Linked DNA regions of Homo sapiens: region 2 is linked to region 1. Evidence: fine-mapped expression QTL. Tissue or cell type: monocytes. Region 1 holds a variant in brackets; the other region holds the start of a gene. All regions are shown on one strand. Distances are from middle to middle. Region 1 overlaps ANGPT4 (angiopoietin 4). Region 2 holds the start of ANGPT4 (angiopoietin 4).

Evidence for each region. PIP is the estimated chance that this variant, and not a neighbour inherited with it, causes the effect.
Region 2: ANGPT4 starts here. The variant in region 1 is the best candidate, but not a certain one, in a credible set for the expression of ANGPT4 in monocytes (TOPMed, PIP 0.50).

The regions. Positions count from the first base shown.
Region 1 is chr20:891,069-893,971 of GRCh38, forward strand. All of the region lies in intron 1 of ANGPT4 (angiopoietin 4), which reads right to left. Among named protein-coding and RNA genes, the nearest start is that of ANGPT4, 24 kb to the right of the region's middle. The variant A/C (reference allele first, on the strand shown) is at 1,566.
Region 2 is chr20:914,817-917,719 of GRCh38, forward strand. It overlaps ANGPT4 (angiopoietin 4), which reads right to left and starts at 1,518. Exons shown (of 9, transcript NM_015985.4): 1 at 1,090-1,518. The coding sequence starts at 1,398. LOC105372492 (a long non-coding RNA gene) reads left to right here. Exons shown (of 3, transcript XR_937185.3): 2 at 2,510-2,605.

The DNA of each region.
Region 1 (2,903 bases):
TCTATGTTTAGCACAATGCATGGTGCACAGTGAGTGCTCATAAATGCGCGTTCAATGAATTGATGAAAAAGGGGAAACAGCAAGGGTCAGAGCACAGCGCCCAATCACATGCCCCTTCACCAGCTTCCTCAGGGTGAGTCAGCCAGCAGGGAGTGGGAATGCATCTCTCCCTTGTACAAAGAGTTTGCAGGTCCATTGGCCAAGCTGTGTTTTCTATCTTCAGATCCCCTCTATCTGCCAAATGGGGCTGGACTGGCCAGTCTCCAAGGGTTCTCCCAGCTCTGATGTTCTGGGATCCCACATGCAAATGTTCATTTCTTTGACAGGGCTGCTCTCTTTCCCAAGGGCAGGAGAGCTGGTCTGGCATGACACCAGTATGCTGTTGTAAAGGTGAACAGTGTGTTCTCAGGGCTCGGTGCCTGCAGGCAGAGAGCCAGCTCCCCTCCACCATTGCCTCTCCATTCGGCACACATGCTGGCCTCTCACCATGCCCCCCACCCCTGTCCCTGGCTCCTTCCCTTGCCCTCTCACTCAGTCTTTCAGAAGCCAGCTGGACAGCTCTCAGGGTCCTTGGGAAGATGGGTGCTCCCCAGGAGAGGTGGTGACCTTGGCTCGGGCCAGGCTCCAGCCACTTCCTCCTTCATCTCTTCTCCCTTCTTCCATCTTGACTGTTCACTCCCATCCCTTCCTCACCCTGGAGTGTTTCAAAGGGAGCAAGTTCCATTATCACATCCTGGAGCGGGTGCTTGTGGGCGGTAGTAGTACTGGTTAGAGCTGTGTTTCTCCAAGTGTGGTTCTTCCGTCAGCATCAGCTGAGCTCATTAAAAATGTGAATTTCCAGGTCCCACCGCAGACCTCCTGAACCAGAAACTCTTAATGGTGCCCAGCCAACTGTGGTTAACAACACCCCTGGCTGAGTCAGATGCCTGCTCAAGTGTGAGAGCCCTTGATGCAGAGTAGCAGCAGGGACTGAAGACCAGAGAGACCCCCCTCCTTCTTTCCCTGCATCATCAGCCCACCCCCTCCCTGCAGCACACAAACATGCGCTAACAGCTTCCATCTAAAAACTAACTCCACAGCCTCTCTGGCTGCTTCTCCAGTTTCTCTGATCTCATCAACACAAAACTTCTACAAGTTGTCTCCATTTTCTCACCTTCATACCCACCCTCACTTAAAAAACAACAACAACAACATAACGTTAATAATAAAATGATGTTACGTTTCACACATACAAAAAAGCATAGAGGCCAGGTGCGGTGGCTCACACCTATAATCCCAGTACTTTGGAAGGCTAAGGAGAGTGGATCATTTGAGCCCAGGAGTTTGAGACCAGCCTGGGCAACATGGTGAAACTCCATCTCTACTAAAAATACAAAAATTAGCCAGCCATGGTGGCATAAGCCTGTGGTCTTAGCTACCCAGGAGACTGAGGCAGGAGGATCGCTGGAGCCTGGGAGGTGGAGGTTGCGGTGAGCTGAGATGCACCACTGCACTCCAGCCTGGGTAACAGAGTGAGACCGTGTCTCAAAAAAAAAAAAAAAGTATAGAGAATAAATATAGCCCAT[A/C]GTGCTCATCCTCCTGTATACCTCCAGTCATGTCTCTCCATCCTGGGAGGTCCCTTTGCCTTTTGGCGTCTCACTGTTGCCCAGGCTGGAGTGCAGTGATGTGATCACGGCTCACTGCAGCCTGAAACTACTGGCTTCAAACAATCCTCCCACCTCCCAAATAGCTGGGACGACAGGCGAGCACCACCACGCGCAGTTCCCCCCTTCGCTCTTTAATTCACCTTGTCATAGATAGCCCTCCTTGACACTGCCCTCAAGGGACACTCCATCTTGCTTGACATCTCAGGAGCAATCACCTGGATGGCCACTCCCTGTTGCTGGACGACTTCCCCCCAATCCTGGTTTCCTCCTAGCCCCTAACCACCCACTCTCTGACTCCTCCTTTACAGACTCCTACACGGCAGGGCCCCCATGGCCCAGTCCTGGGTCCTTGTCTCTATGTACATTCACTCTCTAGGTCAGGGGTCCTTAATGAAGAAGCCACAGGCTCCATGAACTTGAGTGAGAAAAAAAGATCACATTTTTTGTCCACTAATCTGCAATTAAAATTTGGCATTTCCTTCAATTATGAGCCTAGGTCACAAACCACAGCCATACTAGCAGGTCCTGAGAGTCATTACCAATAGAAATCCCAAATATTTTCATATCACAACACACTCTTACGGTATCTTAAAACATTGTTTTTACTCACCGGGACTTTGGAATTATAGACATCACACCCACCACTGGATAATGCTATGCCTGATCACAGATTTTATTTTTCATATTTTGCTTATGATTTCCATATTACTGAGTGTTCTTATGCTTTGATTTTATGCATTTCTGAGAAAGGATTATTAAGCTTCACCAGGACCAGATGCCAAGAGGTCTGAGGATCCAAATGCATCAGGGCCCTGCCCCAGGGGCTGAGATCGGTCTTTGGACTTCCACATCCCTCTGTGCTAATGGAGCCATCACCATCTCCCACCCAGACTTCTCCCCTGCATGTCCCCAACTCGCCATCTCTGCATGGTTTCCAATGAGCATCTCAAGCCCAGTGTGAAACTCTTCATTCCTCAGCTCCCATCGCCCCTGTCCCTGTAACTCCCACCCCATGCTTCGAAATCTTTCCCATCTCAGGAAATGGCTCCACCCAGTTCTGAAGCCCCAAACCCAGACCTCAATCTTAACTTCTCTTTTTCTTAGCGGCCACACTCAACCCACTAGTAAGTACTGCCCACTGTGATCCCAATTTGGATTTCAAATCTGTTTACTCGCCTTATTCTGGGCCAGGCTGCCCTCCTCTCCATGGGTCTGCCTTTTGTGCCTTCCTGTCTTTAACCCCTCTGTCAGCTCCCA
Region 2 (2,903 bases), 24 kb after region 1:
TGTAGTCAGTGCTTCTCCGAGGGTACACAATAGGTGCTCACACTGCTGAAAGACGAAAGCATGACAGGGCATTCTACAGCAGCCCTGGTCTTGGGCCAAAACCACAGTGGCATCCTCAGCTCCTTGCTTCCTCCCACTCCGCATCCAATTCACCAGCAGAGCTGATGGGCTCTACCTCCAGAACCCACCAGAATCTTACTGGCCACACCCCCTCCTAGCCCCGTTCTGCTCCAGGCCTCCGGTACCTTGCACCTGATGGCTGCAGCGGCCACCTCTTTGGGCTTCTTCCTTCCACCCTGCCTCCTACAGTCTATGCTGTTGAAATCGAATCACGGGTGTCTGTCTCTGCTCACAACCTTGCAGTGGCTCCCATGACACTCAGAACAAAAGCTGAAGTCCTTCCAGTGGCCCCCCCCCCAGCTGCATGGCCTGCCCTGCTGTCACCTCTCAGACCTCCCCGCACCCTTGCTCCCTCTCCTCTGCTCCAGCTACACAGGCCTTCGCCCCATGGTTCTCCAGGCACACACCGCTGCGGATGCATTCCCTCCTCACGGTCAAAATACATGCAGCTCCCTTTGCAGAACGTTCCCTCAAATACCTGCCTGGCCCACTCTATCATTTCCCTTGTTCTCTGGGTTCAAATGTCACCTCCTCTGAGAAGTACTCTCTAATGATCTGACCTCAAGCAGCCACCCAGGGCCGCCACTTGCCCTCTTTCTTCTTCATTTTGCTTCACCATCTGACATAGTAGATTATCTCTTACTGCCTCTTTCCCCTACTAGTCCAGAGGGAGACATACTATACTGTCGTATCCCCAGCACCCAGGAAGGCTTGGTCCGTTCAGCCCTTGGTCAGGGCTGAATGGATTTCTGTTGGATGAATGAAGGGACGGCAGTTAAAGAGCCAGGTTGCCAGCTGACATTGCCCAATCTTGCTGTGTGGCCTCAGACCCACCCCTGCCCCTCTTTGTGCAGCTCAGAGACAGCCCTCTGTGCTCAGGGAAGGCCTCTTGGATGGACACTCCACCTGCTGATTGTGACAGACCCCAAAGCCGCCCTCTGCCCCCTGCAAACCTCCCATGCCCCGTACCTTCTTCAGCCACTGCGTGTTGTTCTGCAGTGCCTGCTCCAGCTGTTTCACCTGCTGGGTGGGCAACTTCCCCAGGTGCAGTGGGTTGGCCAGTGATTCTCTCTGGAGGGTGTTGGAGTCCCTGGAGACCTCAGGCCCCGGAGGGCAGGGCTCAGACTTGGGCAGCAAGAAGGTGTAGCTACAGTGGCCGTGCTGGACTACAAGTGTCTCGCAGCCCCTATCCGCCTCCTGCCTTGTCTGTTGAGCCACAGACATGGTGGCAACCACAAGGAGGAGGCTGCCCTGCAGCATGGCTAGCTGGGAGAGCATCTGAAGATGTGTCAATGGCGAGGGATGTCTGCTCAGAGCCCTAGGGGCTGTGCCTGGGATGTCCTGCTGCAGCCAACAGTGGCCAGGCTTGCCTGCAGCTGCAGCTACAAACCTCTGTCTGGCCGAGCTCTGTCCAGGCAGCTATTTATACTTGCTCTGAATACCACGGCTGCTCTGCTTGCTTCCTCTCACCGCCTCCCTCCGGCCCCACCCGACACCCTCTCACCTCTATTCTTCACTCCTTCCCTTCCTCCTTCCTCAGTCTTGGTGGCACGTCGCCCTTACCCTAAGCGTGCACCAACCTTGCTCTGTCTGCCTCACCTCTGAGCCCTCTGATTATCCAGTGAGGCCTGGCTTCCCTGCTGGAGGGGAGGGAAGAAAACAGCACACAGACACGCGCACACACTCATGCACACACTCACGAGCACACACTCACACGCACGCTGACACGCACACACATTCATGTACACACAAACGCCAAGCTCCAATGCTGCCCGCTTTGGAAAACCAAATGCAACTTAACTCTCCCTTCCTGTCTCTGTCTTGGTCTCCCTCTTTCCCTCCACCCCCATCCCCTGCCCCCCAAGTCTAAGATCTCAAGTTTCAGTCCCGCTGCCATCCCCTTCTCTCCCCGCTGCACCTTCCTCCCTCTGGTTCCATGTTAGCGCTTGGAGTACAAGTGACCCCCGGAGAGAGCAGAGGGAGGGGAGGAGGCAGAGGGGTGAGGCTGGGGAGGGCCCAGCGAATCCACTTTGCCTCTGGAGACACAGAAAATCCTTCCAAGGTGGGGCAAGTGAGCAACCCAGCTGGGAGTTGCTTCCTGTCCTCTCTTCTCCCTCAGGGCCAGGGGAAAGTGGTATGCCCCAGGATGGCCCTGGCTTGGTTGCTTGTAACAGTAATGAGAAGTTGTCATGTCCTGGGGCAGATTGTCCTGGGGCTGCTGGAGTGGGGATGTGGAGAGGAGGCAGTGGGGAGAGGAGGTTGGAGTGCCAGGAGGCTAACCCTAGATCTCGCTCCCCGACAGCTGGCCACGAGACCTAGGGTGGGCAGCTGTGCCTCTCTGGGCCTCCACACCCTGATCTGTAAACTGGGTAAACCTTATCTCTTGCAGGAGGAATGCGTGTGAGTCCTCAGCATGGGGATGGAGAAGTTTTCAGCTTCTGGGTTCAAATCCTGGCTCTACCATCTACCAGCTGTATGACTTTGAGTAAGTCACTTAACCTCTCTGTGCCTTCATTTCCTCCTGAATGAGGAAAATAATACCACCTACTTCACATGGCATGAAAATTAGGTGAGTTAGAGCAAGGTTGGCACAGAGCGAGCACTAAATAAATATTTTCCGTTGTCAATGTTATAGTTGTCATTGCACCTCCCCTCCCACGACCCACTGGAGCATAAACTCCTCTAGGGCAGGGATTTGTCCCTGGGGGACATGGTCTCCAGGCAGAAGGTGCCCAGGAGTTGGTGGGGCCTTTCCTGCATGGGCTGCCTTTATGTTCTGCCAG